5 separate regions of the Homo sapiens genome follow, and regions 1, 2, 4 and 5 are each linked to region 3. The links come from fine-mapping of genetic effects on gene expression. A gene starts in region 3. Each other region holds a variant in brackets. All regions are shown on one strand. Distances are from middle to middle.

Region 1 (6,194 bases), 180 kb after region 3:
GGGGGTGGAGAGGCCTAATCATTACTACATAGCCCTGCATGCATGCATGTATTTATTCATTCATTCATCTGTCATTCATTGAAGGCCCACTGAAAGTTAGATGATGTGGTAGGAGGTAGGGATTTAAAGATGAACAACAGATGACAAGCTGAAATTCTAGTGGCAGAGTGGAAAATGGTGACATACAACCTAAGGTGGTAGGCTATGCCCCGGGTGCTGTGGAAACTCAGAAGACAGGATTTTTCATCAAATGAGATGCTTTGAGGACTTTATTCCATGCAAGTTTTTTTTTTCCTAAATAGAATTTAGTATTTCCTTTCATCATTGCTGGTCTCTGTGAGGACATACGTGTTTCTGTAACACTGGAAGAAGGAAAAACATCTGAAATTTGTATAGATACCTTTTCGCTTTGTGGCATGTGGTCATATTTTATAGAATAATGGCAGGGAAGGTATGTGGGAAATGTACATATCTACAGGACTTTTCTGACCTGAAGCTAAACCTGTGCATGAGAAGGGGAGTACATCAAAGAAGCTTCTGGAATGGAAAATGGTGGCCTTTTTCTGCTAAATGCCTCCCTGGCATGCCATGTTCCCAGGCTCCCCATCTCACTCTCTTCTCCCCTGATTCATTTGTAGGGGAAGAAGAAAAGTCTAGGTTCCTGGCTGAGGCCCCTATAACAAAGATAAATAAACAACAGAAAAGGATACCGTTGTATTTAGGTTTTACGTGACATGGATGCCTTCCTAAGGTAAAGGAAGACCTGAAGAAACAGGGAAACCATGTATTTTTTATGCTAGGTTTAACACAGAAGTGGATAGTTATGAAGTATAATTGGACTAAAAAGTGTGATCTACTGATAATAAACTGGAGGAAATCCTGTTTTTTCCAATTCTTCTCTTCAAAGATAAAGATGCTTCTTTCCTCTGGATCTAGGGAGGGCACCTCTCCAATGAGGGTCTCCCAAGCTTTGCTTCAAAGAAGGTAGGGCAGGGAAGGGAGGAGATGAGAAGACCTTCCTACTTCTGCCATTTTCCCAAATTCCTTCAGCTTAAAATATTTTCGGGTATATATACTGAACCCCATCACATTTTTATTTTCTTGTATTTAATAAGCCCCAAAAATGTGAGGTTTTATTTGACCAGGATATCTGGTTTCTGTTTCCTTTAATCCTGGGAAGCCTTCTTGGGCCTTACGAGTTGTGCCAGTTCTCATGAGTTGAGCGCATACGGCTGGTGTCCCTCCTGGTGACCTTCGCAGCCATCTGGGCTGGGGCCTGTGTCTGTCCGGCTCAGCCCAGCGGGGCAGGGCCTCTGCCGTGAGTTTGCAGATGCCTCATTCGGACTCCGAGTCTGTGACTCACGCCATCTGTTGGTAATTTGTCGTTGTTCTGGAGTCAGGAGTTTTCAAAGGATTCAGTCTTTGGTGTCCCTTCACAGGTGCACTGCCTGTGATTTTCTGACACCCTCTTGCCATCCGGCCTATGGCCAGAGCCCAGCACTGAGTCAAGCTACTGTGGATATAATGATGTTGTTCTTTGCACTTTAGAGAGCTTCACACCAAGTTCCTGCCCCCTTCTGAGCGAGTCACACTCTTTATGGGACTTGTTTGAAGTCCAGCCAAGCTGGCAACCGTGGGGTTCCACTTTTACAACCTCTAGCAACAGTAGGCTCCAGTCCTTTGTGTCACCGTGCCATCTGCTTAGCTTTTTTCCTCTTCAAACTGTAAGCAAAATGAGCTACCTAAACCAAAAAACGCCACCCCCCAACTAAAACACATTTGCATCAAGTCAACCTAAATGACACTGCTTTGTTTGCTCTAAACCACATGTATAAAAGAATTTCCATACTTCCTTAAGAAATTTTTTTCACCAAAAAAATAGACAACCATAGTAGCAATTATATTTTTTCTACACACCAGGCACTGTGCTACATGTTTTATGTTCATGATTCCATTTTATTCTCACAGAAACCCAGTGAAGGAGGTATTATCACTATCTTGGTTTTTTTGCATGTAAGGAAATTGGGGCTCAGACAAGTTAAATAACTTACAATGAGTATGCTACCGGTAAGCAAGGCATCTAAATCTAAACCCCACTGCCTGGCTCTACAGCACAAGAGTTTAACTGTTTTGTATACTGCACCCACTCCTTGATATTAATAATCTAATGCATTGAAGTTCAATGCCTTTAATTAATTTTTCAGTCCTTAAACATAGTGTCACACATCCATTAGCAATCCCCATCTATCTATCCAACAGATATTTTTGAGCATCTACTGTGTGCCATGTACCATGCTGGACCCTTGTCTCTTGAAGCTTATAATGTAGTTGAGGCTACAATTTATTCTATAATGTCTCATGAAGAAGTCTTGTCTCATGAAGCTTATAATGTAGTTGAGGCTACAATTTATTCATTTAATAAACCTTTATAAGGAACATACGGTATGCAGGCATTATGCTAGGGACTGGGGCTATGAAGTCAAGAAAGATACCATCTCTCTCAACTAATATATGATAAACTCACGATTAAACTTGAAATCAGAAAAGCAGGATATTTAGTATGTATTACCAATATTTAGTATGCATGTCCTGGCCAAATCATTGAACTTCTCTCTCCCCTAGTTTCTTCACCTATTCAGTAGATAACATGTAAGGTTACCACCAACTTTGGAAAAACAATTTCTACTCTAACCGAACCTAGCTTTGAAGTAACTTTTCTATTAGAAATGTAGGAGAAGAGAAAAGAGCTGAGTCTGGGTTCATGAGAGAAGCAGGAAAAAGAAATTATGAAGTATATCAGCCAGGAAGCTTTTGGCTACAAGTGAGAGAAAACATGACCAAAAGCTTGAAAACGTAGAAGTCTGTTTTCTCCCATAAAAAGAAGTCAAAGGGTAAGTGTTTCTGGTGTTACTTCCATTGCTCAACAGTGTCACCAAAGACCCATTTTATTTATTTATTTATTTTTTATTTTTTT[G/C]AGATGGAATCTCACTCTGTCACCTAGGCTGGAGTGCAGTGGCACGATCTCAGCTCACTGCAACCTTTGCCTCCTGGTTTCAAGCCATTCTCCTGCATCAGCCTCCCGAGTAACTGGGACTACAGGCGCCTACCACCATGCCTGGCTAATTTTTGTATTTTTAGTAGAGACGGGGTTTCACCATGTTGGCCAGGCTGGTCTCGAACTCCTGACCTCAGGTGGTCTGCCCACCTCGGGCTCCCAAAGTCCTGGGATTACAGGCGTGAGCCACCGCACCCGGCCCCATTTTGTTTTCAGGCTTCCTATCACCACCCTTAGTGTTGGCCTTTTGTGCTCAAAGTTATGGTCTCCTGTCCACAAAATGGCTCCTGTTGTGCCCAGAATTATTTTCTCATAACAACAACCCAGGCAGAAAGGAATCCATTATAGAGAAAGACTTTCTTCATACTATGGCATTTGTTTTTGTTTTAGTTTTCACTCTAGAAAGGGAGCCCTCCCCCAGCCAACTTTTCCTTTTATCTCATTGGCTACAACTGGGTCATATGTTGAGCCTAAGCCAATCATAACTTGTCCTTTGGGTCTGGGGGAGGGGTTCTGCATTCTCTGAGGTCATGGGATCTCTACCAGCTTAAAAAAAAATTATGTTTCATTTGAAAGGAAGAAAGTGAATAGACAATTAACAGTGTCTGTCATAGAGTTGGTTGGAAGCAGACACGCTAGCAATGGCCATTTGGCCCTAGAAAAGCTGGAATGTTTGAAGGAACTGTAATGAGTGGGAATGCCTAACAAGTAAATGCTAGAAAAGATAGATCCTGGAGCAAAACCTTTATTATCTAAAAAGATTTTGTCCCTAAAAGGGAAAAGTAGGGGATAAGATTGCCACTAAGAGACTCCTATAAAATCTGTATGACTAGCTTGTATTTGAAATGGAAGAGAACCAGTTACAACTTCCCTTTCATCTTGAATCCAGACACTGTAGACATAATTACCAGGATAGATTGACACTGGGGCAGCCTAAAAGAACCTCAGTCATCCAAAAGTCTTTATTGAACTGGCCACCATGAAACAAAGATGACTAAGACACAGTCCACTCATGGCAGAATTTTTAGGTATTGATGAATTTCCAGCTGTAATTGCAGCATAATACGTGCTTTGCCAAGGGTGTGCACAGAGTACAGTTGGAGCACTGGGGAGAGACTGGCAACACTGCTTGGAGTGGGGCAGGTGGTGATGAGGGGAGGATGTATAGCGGAAATGACATTTGGTGTGGCCCCTGAAGGAATAAAAGAGGCATTCAGAATTGAAATGTAAGAAAAGGGCAATCAAGTCCAGTGGAATCTCGTAACAGAAGTGAAAGTCCTCTGAATATTTCTGAGCAGATATTAATGGGAAAACCTTCACGACCCACAGAACCCATGCTAACACTGCCACTCAGAAATCTTGTGCTCACTTCCTTTGTTGGGTGAGACTGTGGCTGTGGCTTCAGAACGAGGAGATGGTGGATGCTTGTATCTGGCTGCTTGTTGATGAGCTGAGGCGCCACCACTGGCTGGAACAGCAGCCCCTGAAGAATGTAGGAAGGACCATGTGTTCTATCTCCCACCTCTTTCACCACACGATCTTGTTTCCCTCTCATCTTCCTGCTTCCACATCCATGTTTATAAGTCTACCTTACTCAGTAAACTTCTCCCCCTTCACATTAAGACATGTGTTATTGCATCTTGGTCTTTCCTGTGCCGTATCACAAGACCTGACCCATGGCCCGTGTTCAAAATGTGGATTTTGGACAATTGGATGATCAAATAAATGAAGTGAGAAGTTGGGCAGAGGGTGGCCTATGTGTTGGCCACATGGACAATTAGAACTCATCTCATATTCTCCTGGCTTCATTATATTAACCGTATCTGGCTCAGGATGTTTACCTGACTGGAACTTGTGAAATGTGGCAACAGGCAGAAAAGCAGAGGCCAAATAGCTCCCTGTAATTAGATGTATTTAACACTAGAGGTTCCAGGTAGAATTTCACTATTACCTAAAGCCCATCTAAAATGGACAAAGAGAATAAATGAACCAAGAGCAAACATTTATTGAAACCAATTATGAAAGAGAGTATGACATAGGCGATGAAGGAACAGACTCTTCAGCCAGACCTCCTGGGTTTAAATCTCAGCTGCATTGCTTCCTGGCTGTTTTACTTTGGGCAAGTCACTTAACCCCTCTATGCCTCAGTTTCCTCATCTACAGAATAGGAATGAAAATAGTGAATGCCTCTAAGGATTGTTGTAAGGGTGAAATGAGTATAGGTGGTGTAGTTTCATATTACAATAGGCCCTGGCGAATACAGAATACTGTACAAGTGCTGACTACTTGAGTTTCAGAACAACCCTAGAAATTAAGTATAACTTTTATATGTTACATATGATGAAAGTTTAGCTTGGAGAAGTTACATGTGGCAAGTCTATTGATCTTAACATGGCAAGATAATAGCTGGGATTTTCTATAAGGATTTTCTCAATTTCTACATAAAACATATAAACCACAGCCACCCTGTTCTGCCTAGGATAATGAAGTTATGACATCATAGACCGAGCACATCATCCAATCTTTGCTCCTTCCCTCTGGACCAATGGCTAGTGGAATTTTCCCAACAATTAAAGCTATCACTGGTAAGGGAGCATTTGTTTGGGTTTGGGGTTTTTGATTTTTAAAAAATTTCCAATCTGTCATGAACCAAAATCTGTACCAAATATAATAAAAAATTACTAGAAAAATAAATTTTTTAAAAAACCAGACAATATTCAGGGCCAACATTTTTTATTGGATTCAATGGGAAAGTGGCTTTAAAAATCCTTCAAGTGCTTACTCTCAATTCCCGTACTTATCTTTCTGTGAATTTATACCAATGGCCGGCCACCAGTCTGCAGACCATACTCTATGAGTATCTGACTTAAAGGACTTCCATGAAGAGTTAGTTACTCCTCAGATGGAAATGATACACATTCCCGTTTGCTCTTAGCTTGTGGAGAAGTTCTCAGATTTCTATAGATTTTCCTTTACAAACATTGACCTGATGTTTGTGAGGCTACCTGGAGAATCTCTATCCATCAGCAGAGGGTATTAGAAAAGTGGTCTGAAAAAAAAAAATCAACAACAACAAATAAAACCATAAAACACAGCCTTTACAGTTAATCCTGTGCTGGGCTCAAGGTAAATGTTAGTC
Region 2 (6,194 bases), 680 kb after region 3:
TTTCTCTTGGTTATATACCTAGAAATGGAATTGCTTAGTCATGTGGTAATTCAATGTTTAACATTTTGAGGAACTGCCAAACTGTTTTTCAATGCAGCCACACCATTTTATATTCCTACTAGCAGTGTATGAGCATTCTAATTTCTCTACACTCCAGCCAACATTTATTACTACCTGTCTTTTTTTATTATTGCTATCCTGGTGGGTATAAAGTAGCTCCACCCAGCACTTTTGATTACTCCTTGTCTTTTCTTTTCTGATTTATTTATTTATTTGAGACAGGGTCTTGCTCATTCACCCATGCTGGAGTGCAGTGGTGTGATCATTTCTACTGCAGCCTCTAACTCCTGGGCTCAAAGCAATCCTCCTGCCTCAGCCTCCCAAGTTGCTAGGACCAAAGGCATGCACCACAACACCCAACTTAATTTTAAAAAAAAATTTTTTTTCATAGAGATGGAGGCTTGCTCAGCTGCCCAGGCTGGGTGTCCAACTGGCTTCAAGTGATTGTCCTACCTTGACCTCCCAAAGTGCTGGGATTATAGATGTGAGCCACCATGCCTAGCCTGATTCCTCCTCTTTTTCTACCTTACTTTTTTCATTTTCCATAGCACATTTTACCGTCTAACATCTATAAATTATTTCTATTGTTTGTTATCTGACCCCACTTCCTAGTAGATTATAAATTCCATGAGAACAGGGATTTTTGTTTTCTTCTTTGGTGAGATCTCAAAGAAACTTGTATAGTGCCTGGCTTATGTTAAACATTCAGTAAATGTATATTGAATGAACGAATGAATGAATGAATGGCTCTTGATGGACCTTATCCCATCCTATATATGGAGCATTTGCAAGTGAATCTTTTCGATTTGGAAAGTGCTGGATTTGGGGTGAGGGGTAGGGAATGACTGCTTGTTTTCAATCCTTCTTTAGTGTTCATACCACTGAGAGTTGCTTAAAACAGCCTCAAGAAACCCTGAAAAGCCATAACAGACTAAATGAATATTTTACCAATTTAGTGGGTAGGGTGGGGAGCTATTCTCTCATGAATGGATAATGACCTTAAGTAACTGTGACTGCTCTGTATGGCAGCATTGCAAAGGTCAATGTGGGAACATCTTTCTCAGAAAGGAAGTGTGGTGGGGGTTGTATTTTAATTCAACCATTTGTGTTCTTGTGTATTTCACAACAAAACCTAATGAGACCAAATGAGTGCTAGAAATTCTGTGGGCAAGAGATATTATATAATAATTTTATTACGTATGCTTTTAAAAAATATCGTCTATTATTTTCCTAAAGGTATATAATTGTGTTAAAACAGATTTCCTCTATGTGCTCTAAATATAAAGGAGACTAATTATTTCTCCCCTTTTCTTCTCCCAGTAGAATGGATTTTTTTTCTTGGTTCAATCTTTTTATACATAGGTGGATGGAAAGACTCATTATGGCCCATCTTTTTATTTATGGAGCATTTATTATTCATTATAGGTCTATTCTAGTGGTAAAACCCATTTATGGGAAAGAGTAATAGAATATGAGTGCTAACTTTTTGTGCATTTGTCATAATTGAAGTTAGTGGTTTTATAAATATGGGATGCTTCCACCATGGGTTTAGAATAGCCCAGCTGCACAATAAATGGCCTAACCATCAGGTCCTACCTCTTACAGATCGATAAAACCATGAAATCTTTTTTTCTAAATGGAGTTGAGGAGTCTCCCTTGCTTCCTGTACATTCTGGAAAAAGTGGGATATTGTGTTTAATCCAAGCCGAGCTCTGGATTTAAATGGGTTGCACCATAGACCTGACTAGTATCTCAAGTCTCCCGTCTTTTCCAGGGGGAGTTAGGTTTTTCTAGTGAATTCAGATAAGCAAGGCATTTTCACTGAGCATTCTGTGAAAGCATTCTCAAATGAGACATGGATGCTACTGATTTTGCTGATTTCTGATTACAAATGACACATTTTAAAAATCACACACATAGAATGAATTGCAGAATTGTTAACTTGCTTTCCCTTTTTTTTCCATCACATTTGATTGCTAAGGGGGATGTGGAGAAAAGGAGCACTGTTCCCACCCACATCTTAATTAAATAAGGCCTCCATTGGGTTGAGACAAAGTGGGTTTGTATTGCTTTAAGAGAAGATCCGATTGTTTATATCCCTTGCTTGGGTGGATAATTTCCTAATTTCATTTTCCTTTGGAGTGGTGCCACTTTAAACACTTTTAAAGGTACTACAGAAGCCCTTCTGGCCTGGGTCAGAGAATTCATGTCAGGAAAGTCCATTATTTTATTTCCTTTGCATATTATTTCCCTTTGTGGTTTTGTTTTGTCTTTTTCATCCTGTGATATGAATCTGGTCCTTATCACTGAGGGCTAAGTCCTGGAAAGTGACTGTTTTTTGGCTTACATATTTTCCTGATTTATTTCTCACTTAGAATATAAGATGCAATCTTAATTTTTACTTCTTTTGTGTTAGGTGTTTGCTCACCTAGGCTTATAACACTTTTTGTCCGAAGGTTTCTCCAACTGATTCCCAAGCCTAGACTGTAAGTTTTGAAATTGGTACTCATGAAGTTTCCTTTATTCCAAAGTATAAGTGTTTACTTAGTACCCATAAGACAGGGCGTAAGAGGCTATATACAAAAATACAAGATAATAAAAAAACATGATTGGAAAGAAGACTAGATATTAGAAAATTATTAGAAAACTGATTATGCATTATCGTGATGAAAATTCTTTCTTGTCTGTTTTTCATTTCAGCATTTATAGAAATCTATAGTCCTAAAATATTTTACAATTTGATTTTATTTTAAAATCCATAATGTAAATTTACCATCTTAGCCATTTTAGGTTTACGGTTCAGTAGTGTTAAGTATATTCACATCGTTGTGCAACAGACCTCCCGAACTTTTTCATCTTGCAAAATGAAAACTCTGTGCCCATTCAACAACTTCCCATCCCCCCACCCCACCACTTACCCTCTGTAATGTTTTTTTAAAAAAACTTCAGATGAATCAAATGCAAAACATTATTGACACCAATGAAAGTTTAATCACCTGTGTTAAGTAAGACAGTGACATATTGCTGGCATTCCGTCATCTTTTCTTTTTGCTGAGTTTTTCATTTCAATTCAATGCTAAAAAGTTCAAATTAGTTACTACCCCATGAGGCTTGAAAATGTTCCCTTTGGATAATTTGGGTAATTTCTATATGTGTAGCATTGTGAAGTAAAGTAGTTTTTCCTAAAAAAATTAAAGTTTAAAAAATGTATTTCTGTTACTCATTTGAAGTTTCATTTAGGATTAAACTTAATATAGGAAAAAGATATGTGGGTATTAATAATAATGATAACTAACTCATTGAGTATTTACT[A/G]TGTGTCAGGCACTCTTTTAATTAATTATTAATAAATTTTTATAGACACGTTCTCTCTCTGTCACCCAGGTGGGAGTGCAATGGCACAATCATAACTCACCTTAACCTCTAACTCCTGGGTACAAGCGATCCTCCTGCCTCATCCAGATAATTTTTTAATTTTTTGTCGAAATGGAGTCTCACTATGTTGCTCAGCCTGTGATACTATTTTAAATGCCTGCAATCTTCTCAGTTACCCTATGATGCAGGTTACTATTATAATCTCACTTTTACTCCTGAGTAAACTAGCGAGGCACAGAAAAGTTAGGTAATCACCCTAAGTTCCAGGCCTTATGCAAAGCATAGCCAGTATTTAATCCTCAGAACCCTGCCTTGAGTTTGCATTCTTAATCCCTATACTATGCTGCCTTCTAGGTCAATAAGCATGTCAAATGAAAATATTGGTGGATTATTATCAAGGAATATGCAAATGTATACAGGAGAAATGGAAAGTAGAGGAGAAAAAAACTCCTATTTCTTTGGTCTGTAATTTATGCCAAACCCTTTACAATTTTTTTTTTTTTTTTTTTTTTTTTTTTTTTTTTTTTTGAGACGGAGCCTTGCTCTGTCACCCAGGCTGGAGTGCAGTGGCAAGATCTCGGCTCACTGCAAGCCCCGCCTCCCAGGTTCAAGCCATTCTCCTGCCTGAGCCTCGGAGTAGCTGGGACTACAGGCACCCGCCACCATGCCCGGCTAATTTTTTTGTATTTTTAATAGAGACGGGGTTTTACTGTGTTAGCCAGGATGGTCTCGATCTCCTGACCTCGTGATCCGCCCGCCTCGGCCTCCCAAAGTGCTGGGATTACTGGCGTGAGCCAACACGTCCGGCCTACAAGATATTTTAATCATCCTAACGTCTATTCATGCTAGGTTTTAGTGCCTGTGTTTTCACATGTGGAAATAAAGGCTCAGAGAAGTTGGGGAGTTTGCCTGTGTTCACCTACCAATAACTTGCAGGGTCTGGATTTGAACACAAAGGTATATTCTTAAGAGGACTGGAATACATCCTATATAAAAGTATTCTATTATATAGAGTCTATTATATATAATGTAATATAACATCGTGAACTTCTATATAAATATTATATAGGAATGATATTTATTTTATACCTTTCTGTAAATATTATACAGGAAACAATATAGGACAAGAATACTTCTACACATAACATATTCTAGACCTCTTAAGAATTATATATATTATATATATGTCTATGTAGTATATAGCAGTCTATTCTTTTTAAATTAAATTAAATTTTATTTATTATTATTTTTTAGAGTGATGGTGTCTCACTGTATTGCCCAGGGTGGTCTCGAACTCTGGGCTCAAGTGATCCTCCTGTCTCGGCCTCTCAAAGCTTTGGGATTACAGGCATGAGCTGCCACACCCAGCCCAGTCTATTCTAACCTATTGTATGAAATATTCTATTATATATAGTATGTATTAAGATAAATATATTCTTCCTTCTACATTTCATAGCCTTTCAGTCTTCAAGAAGGATGAGACCCTGATATTACCCAAATAATCACAATATTTGAAACACAGAGTGGCAAGGAGGGATTATTGAAAAGAGCATAATGTCTAAGTACAAACTTAGCTTTGCTATCAAACCTTAAGTGTTACAGTTTCAGCTACAGTGAAAAGTTACCTTTCCCCAAACTGCATTTTTGTGTTTATCTTAGAAAATAAAAACTTCAGTTGAAACTACCCATTTTCCTATCACTGCAGGGTTGGGCAGGAATCAGGTGTAGTTTATCTTTCCTGCTTTAGTTTAGGCCTGGACCAGTTTTGCCAAAGGAATACTGTTCTTTACAAATACTGTGCTCTCTGTTGTGTAGGCAAGATGGTAGGTAGTGGACAGAATGTGAAGAATGCTCCAGAAAATAAACTTTTTAATCATCTTAAGAAACCTGGTCTGATTGGATATGTAAAATGAAAGTAATAAACATGGATTTGGGGAAATTCCTACTCAAATCTTCTTACAACTTAGACTGGTTATCCCCACCTACCTGAGTTGGTGTTGTTTTAATATGTATTGTTCATGGCTCAACTCAATAAAAAATAGGCTTTTAAAGATTATACATTTTTGGCCAGGCGCTGTGGCCCACGCCTGTAATCCTAGCACTTTGGGAGTCCTAGGCAGGCGGATCACAAGGTCAGGAGTTCGAAACCAGTGGGGGGCGCCTGTAATCCCAGCTACTCAGGAGGCTGAGGCAGGAGAATCGCTTGACCCGGGAGGCAGAGGTTGCAGTGAGCCGAGATTGTGACACTGCACTCCAGCCTGGGCGACAGAGGGAGACTCCATCTCAAAACAAAACAAAACAAAAGATTATACATTTTTTTTCATGACCCCCCTGAAAAGATCAACCTAAAATATAAAGAATTTCAGCCACCTTTACCCCAGGGCAATAGAATTAGATCTTTAAATGAGTTGGGACCAGCACAGTGACTCATGCCTGTAATCCTAGCACTTTGGGAGGCCAAGGTAAATGGATCACTTGAGCTCACGACCAGCCTGGGCAACATGACAAAACCCCATCTCTTAAAAAAAATACAAAACAAAAATTAGCTGGGCATGGTGGTGCATGCCTGTAGTCCCAGCTACTTAGGAGGCTAAGGTGAGAGGATGGCTTGAGCCCGGGAGGCGGAGGCTGCAGTGAGCCAAGATCGTGCAACTGTACTCCAGCCTGGGTGATAGAGCAGGACCTTGTCTCAAAAAAAAAAGAAAGAAAGAAAGAAAGAAAATTAAATGAATGGAAATGTCTTCATTTAGGATGCTTTAGTG
Region 3 (6,194 bases):
GTATAAACACAATTCTTCCTCCTGAACTTTTAAGCAACGACCAATAGTTACATAAAGTTGGCTTCTTGGAATACAATTTAAGGGTGACATAGGAGTCCCAGTCATTTCCCAAATTAACAGGTATTATCATCAGTATGTCAGACAGACATCCTCCCTGATACGGTTTGGCTGTGTCCCCACCCAAATTTCATCTTGAATTGTAGCTCCCTTAATCTCCACGCATTGTAGGGGGGGAACTGGTGGGAGGTAATTGAATCATGGGGGCAGGTTTTCCTGTGCTGTTCTTGTGATAGTGAATAAGTCTCAGGAGATCTGATGGTTTTATAAAGGGCAGTTTCCTGCACACACTCTTTTGCCTGCCACCACGTAAGATGTGACTTTGCTCTTCCTTTATCTTCTGCCATGAGGGTGAAGCCTCCCCAGCCATGTGGAACTGTGAGTCCATTAAGACTCTTTTTCTCTATGAATTATCCAATCACAGGTATTTCTTCATAGCAGTATGAAAATGGACTAATACACCCCCCCTCCAAAAGAAAAAAAAGGAATGAACAGTCTGTCTCAATTATTAGAAGTACTTAAGAAAGGGTATCTTCAGCCCCATATATAGTCTAAGAAATATTACAACAATCAAAGAATATAGCTTGAAGCTAAAACGGGTTCTTGAAATCTTCCCTTGGTGTTTCTTATGTTTACTGCTATTGATGAAATTCAACTGGATGAGGCTTTTCTCCTCCAGTCTCACTAACTGTGTAGTAGAATGAAAAAGATAAAAAAAAAGACATGCAAATATTTCTTCTATACATAGAAAACAGTATTATCTAAATCAAATATGGAATCATCATAAGAATACTTAGAAGTGAATAATGTATTATAGTTCATAAAAAGTAATAACTTACCTAATGAAGTTTTAAAAGCAATTGTTTACGCTGTAAAAACACAATGTGTGTAGATTAATATTTTCCACAAAAGTTATCTGTAAAACATGACTAAGATTGTTAGATATGGTCTGAAAAGCACAGAAAGCAAGCCTGGACATGTTAATAGTTATCAAGAAGTTCCAAAAATTGTGAACTGACATTCTCATAAAATAGTATTTGAGTCAAGTTTTATACAAACGCTTCATTTTTTTAAAGCACAAAACTATCTGATCATGGTTGGCAAATCATGAAAAAACAAAAGCAAACCCAGCAGAATAGGTTCTAAATACTTAATTAAGAGTTATAGTTATTTATTTAAAAGAAACTGGTCGGGCGCAGTGACTCACACCTGTAATCCCAGCACTTTGGGAGGCCGAGGCAGGTGGATCATTTGAAGTCAGGAGTTCAAGACCAACCTGGCCAACATGGTGAAACCCCATCTCTACTAAAGATACAAAAAAAATTAGCCAGGTGTGGTGGCATGCGCCTGTAGTCCCAGCTACTTGGGAGGCTGAGGCAGGAGAATAGTTGAACCCAGGAGGCAGAGGTTGCAGTGAGCTGAGATCATGCCACTGCACTTCCGCCTGGGTGACAGAGCTAGACTCTGTCTCACAAAAAAACAAAAAGAAAAACAAAACAAAAAACCTGACCATTAAAAATGGCTTTATGAAAATATTATTTCATTTTGTAACAATGGGGTTGGGGAGTCTTAATAATTGTCTAACATGTAAAGTAGGAAGGGTATATCAAACTTTGCAAATATCACATTAACTCATAAAACTTTATTAAGGCTCTATTGAGAGGTGAGGCCAGCTGGACCTCCTGAGACAAGTGGGGACTTGGGGAACTTGCCTGTCTTACAAGAGGAGTGTAAAATGCACCAATCAGCGCTCTGTAAAAAGCACCAATCAGCACTCTGTAAAACACACTAATCAGCACTCTGTAAAACGCACCAATCAGCAAGATTTTAAAAGTAGCCAATCGCAGGGAGGACTGAAAAAAGGGCACTCTCATAGGACAGAAACAGAACACTGGAGAGGACAATAAGGGAATAAAAGCTGGCCACCCCAGCCAGCAGCAGCAACCCGCTCCAGTCCCCTTTCATGCTGTGGAAGCTTTGTCCTTTCACTCTTCACAATAAACCTTGCTATCGCTCACTCTGGGTCTGTGCCATCTTTAAGAGCTGTAACACTTACCACCAAGGTCTGCCGCTTCATTCTTGAAGTCACTGAGACCACTAATCTACCGGCAGGAACCAATTCCAGACACATTATTAAGGTAGGTAGATCTTCAATAGATCTACTCTTTTTTATTTTTATTTTTTTGGCAGTTTATAACCATGTACCAAGGATGCACAATTAAAAAAATAAAGCCAACTTTTACATTAAGATTTAACCAAAAATCATCAATAATACATCGTTTTAATGCTAGTAGAATCTTCTTCTGACATCAGTTCTATTAGCATAATTATAATGCCAATTAAAAAAATCTAGTGGGTCTCTTCATTTTAGTTTAGAGCTTGATTGGAAACATTCAGGAAAACATCCATGGCTTGCTTGCTACTTTCTCTTTACCTCTAGCACTATGCTTCTCCCCACCAGCCCTCCCTCCACATCCTCTGACTCAGAGACTATTTGAAGAGGACACCTGTTTTAAATGGATCCACAGGAAATACCTATGTTGCCTTTTCATAATCCGAACCTGCAACTGGTTGGCTGAAATGAAAATGTTGCCCACAGACTGATGCAACTTCAGTGTGACAACATTTACTGGAAGGCAGGAGGGACTCCAGTTTATATTTATTTTCCTTCCATTAAGCCCTGGTAGTGTAGTGTAAGAAAAAAGTAAGGGCAAAACCAGTTTAACAACCAGATGATTAGTATTAAATTACACGCAGGGGTTTTACATCCAAAATTGGAATTTTTTAAAGCTGAATGCAATCTTGTGGCAGAAAGTTATTTGAAAATCCTTTCTTTATAGCTTTTTATCTATAAACCTCTTGTCCAAAGTTCATATTCTAGCTGATGTTATATACTGATATGACATTATTCAATCTGTCATGGAAAAGTGCTGCGTAGCCTACCCATTGAAAGCAGAATTGAGAGAGTTTCCTAGTGATTGACAGTCGTTTGTCAACACTGAAAACCTTATTGCCCCAAAATACTGAAAGTCACTCGCGGCTGCCTGTGCTCGGGTTTACACCCCACGTTCACACCCCCACCGGATCCCTCCGCACGGGGCACCAGCTCTCGGCCAACTGCAACTACCCCAGGAAGCGTCACCGCGATTCCGGGGCGGGAACATTTGTGGACACTGGGGTCCACTCCTTCAGTCTAGGTTCCCCGCCCCCTCGCCCGGCCCGGCGCCCACTAGCCACAGGGCCCGCTTCCCCCTGGAGATCAGCGCGCACTTCCCGAGCCCTCGTAGCACTCAGAGGTCGCATCCACACCTGGGATGCCTAGGGGGCGCCTCCTGGCCGGGTGTCCCGGGACCCTGCGAACGCAGGAGCAGAATGACGAAGGTGACGAAAGAGATGACGACACGCCGCCTGCCAGGCCGCGGCCGGCAGTGGAGAGCGTCCGCAAACCGCGCCCGGCCAGTACAGGTCACCCGGGCGCTCGCGGCCGCGCCAGTCCCCGGGGGCGCGCGCCCCGCCCCCGCCCCCGCCCCCGCCCCGCCCCGCCCCGCGCCCGCGCCCGCGCCCGGGTTCCCACGGCGCCCGCCCCCGCGCGCCCGGCGCCTCCCTCACGCCCGCCCTCCTTGCCGCCCAGCCGGTCCAGGCCTCTGGCGAACATGGCGCTTGTCCCCTGCCAGGTGCTGCGGATGGCAATCCTGCTGTCTTACTGCTCTATCCTGTGTAACTACAAGGCCATCGAAATGCCCTCACACCAGACCTACGGAGGGAGCTGGAAATTCCTGACGTTCATTGATCTGGTAAGGCCGTCCCCTCCCCCTGCTCGCCCCGCACCCCGTGCCTGTGTGTGCGTGTGTGTGTGTGTGTGTGTGTGTGTGTGTGGATGCGCGAGCACCTGCGCACGTGCGCGCCTCCAGCATCCACCCGTGTCCTCGCCTCTTCCCCAGTGATTGCGTGTGAAGGCCTGGCTGCCCCCGCAGCGGCACCTTCTGAACCACTCACCGTTACCTGGTAGCTGGGTACCCTTACCTGGCAACTGGGGGACAAATGGAGGTGGGGCGCAGCCAGGTGGTGGGCTCTTTGGAGGGGGACACCGAACTGCTTCTAAGAGGTGACACGGGAAGAATCTTCAACAAAAGCATCGGACCTGATCCTGAATGGCCTGAGACCCATTCGCCCTCAAGGTGCTTTTCAGAGCACCCACCGTGGGATGAACTTGTTGCAACTGAAGGAAACTGGGTATTGTCTAGTGATTTGGAACTTCACCTGAAAGAACCAAATCCTTCTCATAAGGGAGAGAAAGCACCTAATAAAGTTGTCTTCTTTGCATCTGTTTTTTTCCCCCATTGTCAATAATTTACTTTCAACCTTTACCCCGTACATATTAGGAGACAGAGATGTTCAAAGTGCATTTCCAAGGTGACTGTACACACTTCTCTGTCTTCCCATGTACAAATTTACAGTAGTTTGCATAAGCAGCTCCTCTGTTGGCACAATATGATAATCTTGACAGGTGCAGGTTATTATTAGTATATCATTTTGAAAGTTTTTCTATTTCTGGCACTAAAAGGCCCTCTTCAACCTCCCTGGAGAACAGAACATGGGCATAAGGCCCAATAATGAACTCATGGATGGACCTAGGAATTTCAGGGTAAAGGTGACTAAGACACACGCTAAAAGATTATTAGGAAGAGGCTTAAAACAAAAGCAATGAAGTTCTAAAGCACTCAGAGAAATTGTAGAACCAATTCCTGGGACTCCCTGAACTGTTTATCCAAGACTATACAGTTGGTTGGCTACACCAGCAAGATTATAATCTCTTGTTGACCCTCCATTCTGATGAAGAGAACATGATACCTGTTTTAAAAATTTCCAAAGGCTTAGGATGCCTCAAAGAAATGCAGAGAGGCTTTTGGTTTAAAAATAACACCTTATATTTGCATTATATTAGATACTTTCAGAGTGGAATTTCAATTCTGTTGCCCAGCAGTCTCCAAACTGTGCACATACCCTTAGGCCCACAAGACTTCACAGGGTATAGAATGTTGCAAGGGTTTTAATTTTCAGATCCTCATCTTCCAACTCTGCTTGAAACTAATTTCCCTCTGAACATGCGTGATGCCTGCCAGTTCTCCTTTCATTCTCCCCATTCATCCAAGTGAGGAGCCCGTGACAAGACTCTGAGGTGTGCTTTTCTGTCTGTTCCTTTTAGCTTCCAGAAGATAGATGGTTGTCACCAGGGCTATCTTTATATTTGATTGAACAACAATGTCGGAGTTGCCTTGACAGAAAGTCTTATTGGGTTGATTGGCTTGTCAATGAGGATTGGCTTTGCCAATTATGTTGTGTAGCAGACATTTTCTGTATACTGAATGAGCTAAATCTGCAACCCTGAGGTTCTGATGCATATGTATATGAAGCAAGCATACCACCCATAGAGCGCCAGAAAGATGTCCCTTTTTCAAGTGTTTACACTTAACTATGTTAAGGATGTTGAGATGTTATTTAAAAATATGTGCATAGATTTTCAGAATTCTTTGAGGGGCTATGTGAGCAAAACTCCTTTTGGGACACTGCCTTATCCCATTCCTAAGTCAGATCTTACTTAGAGCTGGCCTATTTGAATGTTGCTAAAGAGCAGTGCTGGGCAAGAATACAGAGATGCTGTGGGAGCCATAGGTTCTAGAAACAGCCCTCAGCATCACTCTTGCAGTAGATGCTGTGTTGTGGGAGCAAGGCAGGGGTCAGCAGGTGAACAGAGGTAGAAATTGAGGGTGTTGGTTAACCCAAGAGATGCCTGCTTTTCATAATTAGCATTGCTTACTGTGCATTGAAAAACAAGGCTCAGAAGAAATGATATACCTCTCATAACCTTTGTGTGACATGAAACCATAGTAGAGTCAGCTTGATATGCTGTCATATAATTTATCTTTTAGCATTCAATGATTGGACTTGCCTGTTTTAAATACTAATCACCATACAGGACTTTTTCTATCCCAGAAGTCAGACAGTAGATTCAAATGTGAAACATTTACTTTGCTTCATATTTAGCTTCAGATTGTATAGGACCTTTAGCCAGCGTTGTAATTTTTTACTCTGTGGCTCCTGATTGAAACATAATAATTATCTTTAACAAAGAGTGC
Region 4 (6,194 bases), 28 kb before region 3:
TTATACTTTAAGTTCTGGGGTACATGTGCACCAAGTGCAGGTTTGTTACGTAGGTATACATGTGCCATGTTGGTGTGCTGCACCCATCAACCCGTCATTTATATTAGGTATTTTTCCTAATGCTATCCCTCCCCCAGTCCCCCACCCACCTACAGGCCCCAGTGTGTGATGAGCCCCTCCCTGTGTCCATGTGTTCTCATTGTTCAATTCCCACTTATGAGTGAGAACATGTGGTGCTTGGTTTTCTGTCCTTGTGATAGTTTGCTGAGAATGATGGTTTCCACTTTCATTCATGTCCCTGTAAAGAACATGAACTCATCTTTTTTATGGCTGCATAGTATTCCATGGTGTATATGTGCCACATTTTCTTTATCCAGTCTATTACTGATGGGCATTTGGGTTGGTTCCAAGTCTTTGCTATTGTGAATAGTGTCACAATAAACATACATGTGCTTGTGTCTCTATAGCAGCATAATTTATAATCCTTTGGGTATATACCCACTAATGGGATTGCTGGGTTAAATGGTATTTCTAGTTCTAGATCCTTGAGGAATCACCACACTGTCTTCCACAACGGTTGAACTAATTTACACTCCCACCAACAGTGTAAAAGCATTCCTATTTCTCCACATCCTCTCCAGCACCTGTTTTTTCCTGACTTTTTAATGATCACTATTCTAACTGGTGAGAGATTGTATCTCATTGTAGTTTTGATTTGCATTTCTCTAATGACCAGTGATGATGAGCATTTTTTCATAAGTCTGTTGGCTGCATAAATGTCTTCTTTTGAGAAGTGTCTGTTCATATCCTTTGCCCACTTTTCGATGGGGTTGTTTTTTTCTTATAAATTTGTTGAAGTTCTTTGCAGATTCTGGATATTAGCCCTTTGTCAGATGGATAGATTGCAAAAATTTTCTCCAATTCTGTAGGTTGCCTGTTCACTCTGCTAAGAGTTTCTTTTGCTGTGCAGAAGCTCTTTAGTATAATTAGATCCCATTTGTCAATTTTGGCTTTTGTTGCCATTGCTTTTGGTGTTTTAGTCATGAAGTCTTTGCCCATGCCTATGTCCTGAATGGTAATGCTTAGGTTTTCTTCTAGGGTTTTTATGGTTTTAGATCTTACATTTAAGTCTTTAATCCACCTTGAGTTAATTTTTGTATATGGTGTAAGGAAGGAATCCAGTTTCAGCTTTCTACATATGGCTAGCCAGTTTTCCCAGCACCATTTATTAAATAGGGAATCCTTTCCCCATTGCTTGTTTTCGTCAGGTTTGTCAAATATCAGATGGTTGTAGATGTGTGGCATTATTTCTGAGGCCTCTGATCTGTTCCATTGGTCTATATAACTGTTTTGGTACCAGTAACACGCTGTTTTGGTTACTGTAGACTTGTAGTACAGTTTGAAGTCAGGTAGTGTGATGCCTCCAGCTTTGTTCTTTTTGCTTAGAATTGTCTTGGCTATGCGGGCCCTTTTTTTTCCCATATGAAATTTAAAGTAGTTTTTTCCAATTCTGTGAAGGAAGTCAGTGGTAGCTTGATGGGGATAGCATTGAAGGTATAAATTACCTTGGGCAGTATGGCCATTTTCACAATATTGATTCTTCCTATCCATAAGCATGAAATGTTCTTGTATTTGTTTGTGTCCTCTTTTATTTCATTGAGCAGTGGTTTGTAGTTCTCCTTCACATCCCTTGTAAGTTGCATTCCTAGGTATTTTATTCTCTTTGTAGCAATTGTGAATGGGAGTTCATTCATTATTTCACTCTCTATTTGCTTGTAATTGGTGTATAGATATACTTGTGATTTTTGCACACTGATTTTGTATCCTGAGACACTGCTGAAGTTGCTTATCAGCTTAAGGAAATTTGGGATGAGATGATGGGGTTTTCTAAATATATAATCATGTCATCTGCAAACAGAGACAATTTGACTTCCTCTTTTCATAATTGAATACCCTTTATTTCTTTCTCTTGTCTGATTGCCCTGGCCAGAACTTCCAATACTATGCTGAATAGGAGTGGTGAGAGAGGGTATACTTGTCTTGTGCCAGCTTTCAAAGGGAATGCTTCCAGTTTTTGCCCATTCAGTATGATATTGGCTGTGGGTTTGTCATAAATAGCTCTTATTATTTTGAGGTATGTCCCATCAATACCTAGTTTATTGAGAGTTTTTATCATGAAGGGCTGTTGAATTTTGTCAAAGGTCTTTTCTGCATCTATTAAGATAAGCATGTGGGTTTTGTCGTTGGTTCTGTTTATGTGATGGATTACGTTTATTGATTTGCATGTGTTGAACCAGCCTTGCATCCCAGGGATGAAGCCAACTTGATCATGGTGGATAAGTTTTTGATGTGCTGCTGGATTCGGCTTGCCACTATTTTATTGAGGATTTTTGCATCGATGTTTATCAGGGATACTGACCTAAAATTCTTTTTTTGTTGTGTCTCTGCCAGTCTTTGGTATCAGGATGATGCTGGCCTCCTAAAATGAGTTAGGGAGGATTCCCTCTTTTTCTATTGATTGGGATAGTTTCAGAAGGAACGGTACCAGCTCCTCTTTGTACCTCTGGTACAATTTGGCTGTGAATCCATCTGGTCCTGGACTTTTTTTGGTTGGTAGGCTATTAATTATTGCCTCATTTCAGAACTTGCTATTGGTCTATTCAGAGATACGACTTCTTCCTGGTTTAGTCTTGGGAGGGTGTATGTGTCCATGAATGTATCCATTTCTTCTAGATTTTCTAGTTTATTTGCATAGAGGTGTTTATAGTATTTTCTGATAGTAGTTTGTATTTCTGTGGGATTGGTGGTGATATCCCCTTTATCATTTTTTATTACGTCTATTTGATTCTTCTCTTTCTTCCTTATTAGTCTTTCTAGCAGTCCATGAATTTTGTTGATCTTCTCAAAAAACCAGATCCTGGGTTCATTGATTTTTTTGAAGGTTTTTTTTTTTGAGTCTCTATCTCCTTCGGTTCTGCTCTGATCTTAGTTATTTCTTGTCTTCTGCTAGCTTTTCAATTTGTTTGCTCTTGCTTCTCTAGTTCTTTTAATTGTGATGTTAGAGTGTTGATTTTAGATATTTCCTACTTTCTCTTG[T/C]TGGCATTTAGTGCTATAAATTTCCCTCTAACCACTGCTTTAAATGTGTCTAGAGAATCTGGTACGTTGTGTCTTCATTCTCAATGGTTTCAAAGAACATCTTTATTTCTGCCATCATTTCATTAGTTACCCAGTAGTCATTCAGGAGCAAGTTGTTCAGTTTCCATGTAGTTGAGTGGTTTTGAGTGAGTTTCTTAATCCTGAATTCTAATTTGATTGCACTGTGGTCTGAGAGACAGTTTGTTGTGATTTCTGTTATTTCCATTTGCTGAGGAGTGTTTTACTTCCAAACACTTCTCCTGGTCCATTTTAGAATAAGTGCGATGTGGTGCTGAGAAGAATGTATATTTTGTTGATTTGGGGTGGAGTGTTCTGTAGAAGTCTATTAGGTCTGCTTGGTCCAGAGCTGAGTTCAAGTCCTGGATATCCTTGTTAATTTTCTGTCTTGTTGATCTGTCTAATATTAACAATGGGGTGTTAAAGTCTCCCACTATTATTGTGTGGGAGTCACAGTCTCTTTGTAGGTCTCTAAGTACTTGCTTTATGAATCTGGGTGCTCCTGTATTGGGTGCATATATATTTAGGATAGTTAGCTCTTCTTGTTGAATTGATCCCTTTACCATTATGTAATGGCCTTCTTTGTCTCTTTTGATCTTTGTTGGTTTAAAGTCTGTTTTATCTTTGTTATTGTGAATAGTGCCACAAGTTGATGTGTGCAGCAAACCAAAATGGCACATGTATACTTATGTATCAAACCTGCATTTTGTGCACATGTACCGTAGAACTTAAAGTATAATAATACAAAAAAGTCTGTTTTATCACAGACAAGGATTGCAACCCCTGCTTTTTTTTGCTTTCCATTTACTTGGTAGATCTTCCTCCATCCCTTTATTTTGAGCCTATTTGTGTCTTTGCACACGAGATGGGTCTCCTGAATACAGCACACTGATGGGTCTTGACTCTTTATCCAATTTGCCAGTCTGTGTCTTTTAATTGGGGCATTTAGCACATTTACATTTAAGGTCAATATTATTATGTGTGAATTTGATCCTGTCATTATGATGCTAGCTGGTTATTTTGCCCGTTCGTTCATGCAGTTTCTTCATAGCATCAGTGGACTTCACTATTTGGCATGTTTTTGCAGTGGCTGGTACCCGTTGTTCCTTTCCACATTTAGTGCTTCCTTCAGGAGCTCTTGTAAGGCAGGCCTGGTGGTGACAAAATCTCTCAGCATTTGCTTGTCTATAAAGGATTTTATTTCTCCTTCCCTTGTGAAGCTTAGTTTGGCTGGATATGAAATTCTGCGCTGAAAATTCTTTCCTTTAAGAATGTTGAATATTGGCCCCCACTCTCTTCTGGCTTGTAGGGTGTCTGCCAAGAGATCCACTGTTAGTCTGATGGGCTTCCCTTTGTGGGTAACCTAACCTTTCTCTTTGGCTGCCCTTAACATTTTTTCCTTCATTTCAACCTTGGTGAATCTGATGATTATATGACTTGGGGTTGCTTTTCTCAAGGAATATCTTTGTGGTATTCTTTGTATTTCCTGAATTTGAATCTTGGCCTGTCTTGCTAGGTTGGGAAAGTTTTCCTAGATAATATCCTGAAGAGTGTTTTCTAACTTGGTTCCATTCTCCCCGTCACTTTCCGGTACACCAATCAAATGTAGATTTGGTCTTTTCACATAGTCCCATATTTCTTGGGGGCTTTATTCATTTCTTTTCATTCTTTTTTCTCTAATCTTGTCTTCTCACTTTATTTCATTAATTTGATCTTCAATCACTGATATCCTTTCTTCCATTTGATCTAATCAGCTATTGAAGCTTGTGTATGCTTCATGAAGTTCTCGTGCTGTTTTTTTCAGCTCCCTCAGGTAATTTATGTTTTTCTCTACACTAGTTATTCTTATTCTAGTTAGCCATGCCTCTAACCTTTTTTCAAGGTTCTTAGCTTCCTTGCAATGGGTCAGAACATGCTCCTTTCGCTCGGAGAAGTTTGTTATTACCCACCTTCTGAACCCTACTTCTGTCAATGCATCAAACTCATTCTCCGTCCAGTTTTGTTCCCTTACTGGCGAGGAGTTGTGATCCTTTGGAGGAGAAGAGGCTTTCTGGTTCTTGGAATTTTTAGCCTTTCTGCTCTGGTTTCTCCCCATCTTTGTGGTTTTATCTACCTTTGGTCTTTTATCTACCTTTGGTCTTGATGTTGGTTTTGGTGTGGATGTCCTTTTTGTTGATGTTGATGCTATTCCTTTCTGTTTCTTGGTTTTCCTTCTAACAGTCAGGTCCCTCAGTTTCAGATCTGTTGGAGTTTGCTGGAGGTCCACTCCAGACCCTGTTCGCCTGGGTATCACCAGTGGAGGCTGCAGAACAGCAAATATTGCTGCCTGATCCTTCCTCTGGAAGCTTTGTCCCAGAGGGGCACCCACCAGATGCCAGCAAGAGCTCTCCTTAATGAGGTGTCTCTCAGCCCCTACTGGGAAGTGTCTCCCAGGCAGGCTACATGAGGGTCAGGGACCCACTTAAGGAGGCAGTCCATCCATTATCAGAGCTCGACCACCATGCTGGGTGAGCCACTGCTCTTTTCAGAGGTGTCAGCCAGGGACATTTAAGTCTGGAGAAGCTGTGCCCACAGTTGCCCCTTCCCCCACGTGCTCTGTCCCAGAGGGACGAGGGTTTTATCTGTAACTCCCTGACTGGGGCTGCTGCCTTTTGTTCAGATATGCCGTGCCCACAGAGGTGAAATCTAGAGAGGCAGTCAGCCTTGCTGAGCTTCAGTGGGCTCCGCCCAGTTCCAGTTTCCCGACAGCTTTGTTTACTCTATGAGCATAAAACCACCTACTCAAGCCTCAGCAATGGTGGATGCCCCTCCCCCTGCCAAACTCCAGCGTCCCAGGTCAATTTCAGACTGCTGCCCTTGCAGTGAGAATTTCAAGCCAATGGATCTTAGCTTGCTGGACTCCATGGGCATGGGACCCACTGAGCGAGCCACTGGAGGGAATCTCCTGGTCTGCCAGTTGTGAAGACCATGGGAAAAGCGCAGTATTTGGGCAGAAGCGTACTGTTCCTCCTGGCACAGTCTCTCATGGCTTCCCTTGGCTA
Region 5 (6,194 bases), 59 kb before region 3:
TAAGTTCCAGGGTACATGTGCACAATGTGCAGGTTTGTTACATATGTATACATGTGCCATGTTGGTGTGCTGCACCCATTAACTCATCATTTACATTAGGTATATCTCCTAATGCTATCCATCCTCCCTCCCCCCACACCACTACAGGCCCCAGTGTGTGATGTTCCCCACCCTATGTCCAAGTGTTCTCATTGTTCAACTCCCACCTACGAGTGAGAACATGCAGTGTTTGGTTTTCTGTCCTTGTGATAGTTTGCTCAGAATGATGGTTTCCAGCTTCATCCACATCCCTACAAAAGACATGAACTCATCCTTTTTTATGGCTGCATAGTATTCCATGGTGTATATGTGCCACATTTTCTTAATCCAGTCTATCATTGATGGACATTCGGGTTGGTTCCAAGTCTTTGCTATTGTGAATAGTGCTGCAATAAACATACGTGTGCATGTGTCTTTATAGCAGCATGATTTATAATCCTTTAGGTATATACACAGTAATGGGATGGCTGGGTCAAATGGTATTTCTAGTTCTAGATCCTTGAGGAAACACCACACTGTCTTCCACAATAGTTGAACTAATTTACACTCCCACCAACAGTGTAAAAGCGTTCCTATTTCTCCACATCCTCTCCAGCATCTGTTGTTTCCTGACTTTTTAATGATCAGCATTCTAAGTGGTGAGAAATGGTATCTCATTGTGGTTTTGATTTGCATGTCTCTAATGACCAGGGATGATGAGCTTTTTTTCACATGTTTGTTGGCTGCATAAATGTTTTCTTTTGAAAAGTGTCTGTTCATATCCTTCGCCCACTTTTTGATGTGGTTTTTTTTTTCTCATAAATTTGTTTAAGTTCTTTGTAGCTTCTGCATATTAGCCCTTTGTCAAATGGATAGATTGCAAAAATTTTCTCCCATTCTGTAGGTTGCCTGAGTGATCAGGCACCTCTCCTAGCTTCTGACAGCTGCTGGTCAATCTCAGCATTCCTTGGCTTGTGGATGCATCTCTCCAATCTCTGCTTTATCATCATGTCACCTCTTTCCTTTTCTCTTATAATGACATTTGTCATTGGATTTAGGGCCCATTATAATTGAGTATGACCTCATCTAGAGATCTTTAACTTTACATGTGCAAAGACACTTTTTGCAAGTAAGTCACATTCACAGGTTCCCAGTGGGCATATCTTTTGTAGGGCACCACTCATCATGGGACAGATATGTAGTAAAATGTTCCAATGGAAAAATATTTGAAGGATGTTATTTTGGAAGATAATTTTTTTGATGTACTTTAAAAACAAATTAGCGGCCAGGTGCTGTGGCTTATGCCTATAATCCCAGCACTCTGAGAGGCCGAGGCGGGCTGTTCACAAGGTCAGGAGATTGAGACCATCCTGAATAACACGGTGAAATCCCGTCTCTACTAAAAATACAAAAAAATTAGCCGGGCATGGTGGCAGGCACCTGTAGTCCCAGCTACTCAGGAGGCTGAGGCAGGAGAATGGCGTGAACTCAGGAGGCGGAGCTTGCAGTGAGCCGAGATCATGCCACTGCACTCCAGCCTGGGTGACAGAGTGAGACTCCATCTCAAAAAAATGACACAAAATAAAATAAAATAAAATAAAATAAAATAAAATAAAATAAAATAAATTAGCATGCATTATTTCCCCAAAACCAATCGGAAAAATAGACTTGTTAGTTTGCTGAGGTGTAAGGAATTGGCATTTTTAAGTGCCATTGATAGAACTGTAGATTGGTAGAGCCTTTCAGATAGCAATTTGGCAGTTCTGTTTCTAGGAATTTATACTACAGAAGTATGTGCGTCTTTACCCAAAGATATATGCCCAATCATGCTCATTATAGCATTGTTTGTGATAGCAAAAATATTTTTTAAAAAAGTATTTTTTGTGTCTTTTTCTCCTAGGAGAAGTTTCCTTATGGACCTGGTGCAAAAGTAGACATACAATTCTAAATTATGTGATCATTAAAAATTAGGAGAGAGAAAGTTTTTTGTATATTGACAAGGATAAAAAGCCATAATATGCTGCTAAATAAAAATAGCAAGTTAAAAAACATTATTTATAGTGTGATCTCATTTTACAATCAGTATTTTTATACACTGAGGAAAAAAAATGAAAAGGATGTACGCAGCAATTATCTTTGAGTGATGGGACTACAGAACTTTCATTCTTGCTTTATACATTTCTAGATTGAGTAGGAACATTTCACAATGAGCATCTATCATTTCTATTATAAGGGAGAAAACAATGAAGATTTTTTTTAAAAAAAAAAAAGAAAGACAAATTCTACAGAGAGTGGCATTGTTCCAGGGCTGGGTCTCGGGCCAAGCTTTAGACTCCGCTGCAAAGCAGTGGACAGGACCTCCCTCAGCGGGGCTTGTGAATAGCATGATTGACACTTTCTGCCTGGCCTGGGCTTTCATGCATCTGGCCTGGGTCAGCTGGGAACTCCCTCAAAATTTCCACCAAGGGGCCTCTCCACCTTTTGTACAGTGTTGACCATTTCTTCATTTTCTGTAAAGCCAGAGAGCCAAGAATGCTATTAGCTATGGAGGACTTCAAGCTCCAATCAGCTCATACTTCTCAGCTGTACGACTTTGAGTAAGTTATTTAACTGCCCTAGCCTGCCTACCTCAAGGGTTGATTTTGGAGATGAAGTTTAAAAAATACATAAAATTATTTCATGGACATCGCAACATAGTAAGTACACATAAATGTCAATTCACACCCACCACCTCTTCTACCACTTCTTTCTTCTTGTCCACATTCCTGGGCAGGTAGTGGGTAATTTTCAACAGTGGTTCTCAATGAGAGCTCTATCATCCCCTTGGTGGCAGTTTTAAAATGGGGAAGAGCACATGTTTTGGTTGT[C/T]GCCATGATAAAGAAGCTACTGGCTTTGTCTAGATCTTTGGCAGGTTCCAGGAATGCCAGATGTCCTACAATACATGAGACAGTTCCAGAGAATAAAGAATTGCTTTGTATCCCACGTAACTTTTCACTGACCCACAAGATATCTGTATAAGTTAAAAACCTGTTTATGCGGGGCCAGGCGCAATGGCTCACGCCTGTAATCCCAGCACTTTGGTAGGCCGAGGTGAGTGGATCACAAGGTCAAGAGATCGAGACCAGCCTGGCCAACATGGTGAAACCCCATCTCTACTAAAAACACAAAAATTAGCTGGGCGTGGTGGCAGGCACCTGTAATCCCAGTTACTGGAGAGGGTGAGGCAGAAGAATCGCTTCAACCTGGGAGGTGGAAGCTGCAGTGAGCTGAGATGGTGCCACTGCACTCCAGCCTGGCGATAGAGCGAGACTCTATATCAAAAAAAAAACAAAACAAAACCTGTTTATGTGATTTGAACCTGGAAGCTAATTTCATTTCATATAACAACATTGCATTTCCCAAGGAGAATATTGTATTTGTTTTGTTTTGATTTTACCACATTTTTTGAAAATCATATTTTTTATTATTATTATACTTTGAGTTTTAGGGTACACGTGCACAACATGCAAGTTTGTTACATATGTATACATGTGCCATGTTGGTGTGCTGCACCCATTAACTTGTCATTTAACATTAGGTATATCTCCTAATGCTATCTCTCCCCCCTCCCCCCACCCCGAAAATCATATTCTGATAGCAACACTACTTATGCAATTTTTGCCTCGAAATAAAACACACTTCTTGTATCAAAACATCCCATTGTATCCCATAAATATGTACAATTATTATGTGTCAATTAAAAATAAAAATTAAAAAATTTCCACCTCTAACCATCTGCCTCTGCAGCTGTCACAAGTTGGTTTGGTGCATAGGTGCAATCACCTGACAATATTCTTATTCCTCTGGAATACTCATTCTTAAACATTTATATAATGAAATCCATACTAATCTATTATAAATTACTTTTCTCTTATTTCTCTTTATACTAGTTTGTGCATTATATTGATTTTTTTGAAGTGATGTGTAGGTAGATCATATTATCCATCATTTTTATTTCAGAATCATAAAAGAAGTATTACAAACTATTTATTACCAAAAGAGAACATGATAAGATCAAGGACTGGTCTAGAAGATCATAAAGTTTTTCAATTGCAGCAAAAACCCAGAGGGGAATGTATTAGTTCGTTTTCATGCTGCTGATAAAGACGTACCCAAAATTGGGAACAAAAAGAGGTTTCATTGGACTTACAGTTCCACATGGCTGGCGAGGCCTCAGAATCATGGCAGGAGGCCAAAGGCACTTCTTCTATGATGGCAGCAAGTGAAGAATGAGAGAAGCAAAAGCGGAAATCCTTCAGATCCCGTGAGACTTATTCACTATCACGATAATAGCACAGGAAAGACCGGCCCCCATGAATCAATTACCTCCCCCTGGGTCCCTCCCACAACACTTGAGAATTCTGGGAGATACAATTCAAGTCAAGATTTGGTGGTGACACAGCCAAACCATATCAAGAATCATTTCTCCTGTGAAGTAGGGTGGGTTCAACAATTGCATGTTTTCAATTGTAGAATAGTGACATTGGCAAAAATTCCAGCATTTCCGGATCCTAGGTTCAAGATAACAGCCAACATCTGTCCATCTGGAGCCAGAACCAAGGAGGCAACAGGGCCCAGAATGAATCTTATGAGAAAAGGTCCTTAGCTCAGAAGGAGAGATCAAGTAATTAGTTTGTCCTTTCTAGTTTGCCAGACCAGAAGGCAGGAGATATATCATGAGCCTGTAGAAGAAGCGAAGGTCAAGAAGCCAGAGAGGCAAGTCCACTGAGGAGGGGCAGGGGTGGGGACAATTGTTGCTGGTGGTTAACAAAGTAGTTAGTTGGACAAGGGGTAAGGTAAAGAATGCGGAACAGGTTTAGCCTCAGCATCATTTTAATATGTGGGTTGGGACTCCTAGATCTGTGTCCTTCTACCAAACACTGAATATTTGTTGCATGATTTCTTAAAGGTGCCATCCAGCATCTGAAAAATAAGGAATGAAGTCATCTGATTTCCTCAAGTTTCTTTGCTAGTGGGCCAAAAGGTGGATAAAAAATATTGAAAATTGCCAACGAATAAATCATTATTTGTAGTTTGGAATACTTCGTGTTACTTTTATTTTAGTTTATATCTACTAGTGATGGAAAATCTGTTTTCACGATTCACAGAGAACACCAACGCAGAATGAGCTATGGTAACGGTGGTCTAGTTTCCACAGTTTTCCAAATTATGAGGAAGTGAATGATTGCCAAGACCTCCTAACAGGCTCCAGACTACAGAGAGTTTGCAGAAGTAAAATGACAACAACAGCGGCAAAAATAAAAGACAGAGTGGATAATTTGAAAACATTACGTCCATAGTCTAGTTTATTTTAAATCCAAACAAAATTGAAAGCAAGATTTGCTTAGGATAATGTGCAAAATGGATGCACTGTATCCAAAGAATAAAGCACTATTCTATTAGAGTGAGGAACTATATTTGGAAAAGAGTAGTGTTAAAAATAACCCTAAAGGAGGAAGTCAGAAAGGAATCAGAAAGACATTTTACACAGATCAGAAGTGAAGGGTTATCAAAGATAGAAGTCCTAAGACAGCGTATAAGTGTTCTAAAATATTTAGTCTAAGACACATTTAGACAACCTCCTACATCAGGAGTACCCACCTTGTCACTCACCAGACCTATCATCTTAAGAATTATATTATATGCGGTTCGTGCAAAAGTAATTGCTGTTTTGCCATTACTTTTAATATAATATATGTAACATTATATTTATCTATATTTATTATGTATTCATACATACATATTCATAATGATAGATATAGATAAAGGTAGAAAAAGAGATATATTCACTTATAAAAGTAAATCTTGCTACATGTTATTTTTTTTAAATAAATAAATAAAATTAAATCTTTCCAACCTAGGCTATGTTGGGGTGTAACTGGTGTACAGGACAGGCACAGCCCTGCCCTCACAAAGATAGCCAAGTCAGGGAGTCAGGCTGCTAAATGGGCAATAATAACACAGACCCATGCTGGAGCAGTGCATGAGCTGTCAGAGAATCTTGGAAGGGCACTTGTTTGAGTCCTGGATAGTCAGAGGGAGATTCCCAGAGGAAATGATGTCTAAGCAGAGATCCAAAGGATGAGTTGGAATTTGCTGAGGAATGAGGGTGGCAGAGGGGCAGGAAGATTATATCC

Which allele goes with the higher level. Alleles are on the strand shown, and positions count from the first base shown. SD is a standard deviation of normalised expression in the study named. Not every link is listed here.
With allele T in place of C in region 5, the expression in whole blood of the gene that starts at base 3,674 in region 3 is lower (large effect, 1.1 SD a copy in TwinsUK).

Evidence for each region. PIP is the estimated chance that this variant, and not a neighbour inherited with it, causes the effect.
Region 1: its variant is fine-mapped to the expression of AIG1 in whole blood (TOPMed, PIP above 0.99).
Region 2: its variant is fine-mapped to the expression of AIG1 in spinal cord (GTEx, PIP 0.97).
Region 4: its variant is fine-mapped to the expression of AIG1 in whole blood (TOPMed, PIP above 0.99).
Region 5: its variant is fine-mapped to the expression of AIG1 in whole blood (TwinsUK, PIP 0.95).

What each region holds. Positions count from the first base shown.
Region 1 is chr6:143,234,985-143,241,178 of GRCh38, forward strand. All of the region lies in intron 3 of AIG1 (androgen induced 1), which reads left to right. Among named protein-coding and RNA genes, the nearest start is that of AIG1, 180 kb to the left of the region's middle. The variant G/C (reference allele first, on the strand shown) is at 2,975.
Region 2 is chr6:143,732,633-143,738,826 of GRCh38, forward strand. The region is part of intron 2 of PHACTR2 (phosphatase and actin regulator 2); the gene reads left to right. Among named protein-coding and RNA genes, the nearest start is that of PHACTR2, 58 kb to the left of the region's middle. RefSeq lists an enhancer at 6,151-6,194. The variant A/G (reference allele first, on the strand shown) is at 3,373.
Region 3 is chr6:143,057,216-143,063,409 of GRCh38, forward strand. It overlaps AIG1 (androgen induced 1), which reads left to right and starts at 3,674. Exons shown (of 6, transcript NM_016108.4): 1 at 3,674-3,851. The coding sequence starts at 3,711. RefSeq lists enhancers at 2,670-3,608, 3,434-3,563, 4,164-4,213 and silencers at 3,564-3,653, 3,904-3,973.
Region 4 is chr6:143,029,257-143,035,450 of GRCh38, forward strand. All of the region lies in intron 1 of LINC01277 (long intergenic non-protein coding RNA 1277), which reads right to left. Among named protein-coding and RNA genes, the nearest start is that of LINC01277, 5.2 kb to the right of the region's middle. RefSeq lists an enhancer at 5,702-5,871. The variant T/C (reference allele first, on the strand shown) is at 3,097.
Region 5 is chr6:142,998,645-143,004,838 of GRCh38, forward strand. The region is part of intron 2 of LINC01277 (long intergenic non-protein coding RNA 1277); the gene reads right to left. Among named protein-coding and RNA genes, the nearest start is that of LINC01277, 36 kb to the right of the region's middle. RefSeq lists an enhancer at 4,094-5,293. The variant C/T (reference allele first, on the strand shown) is at 2,886.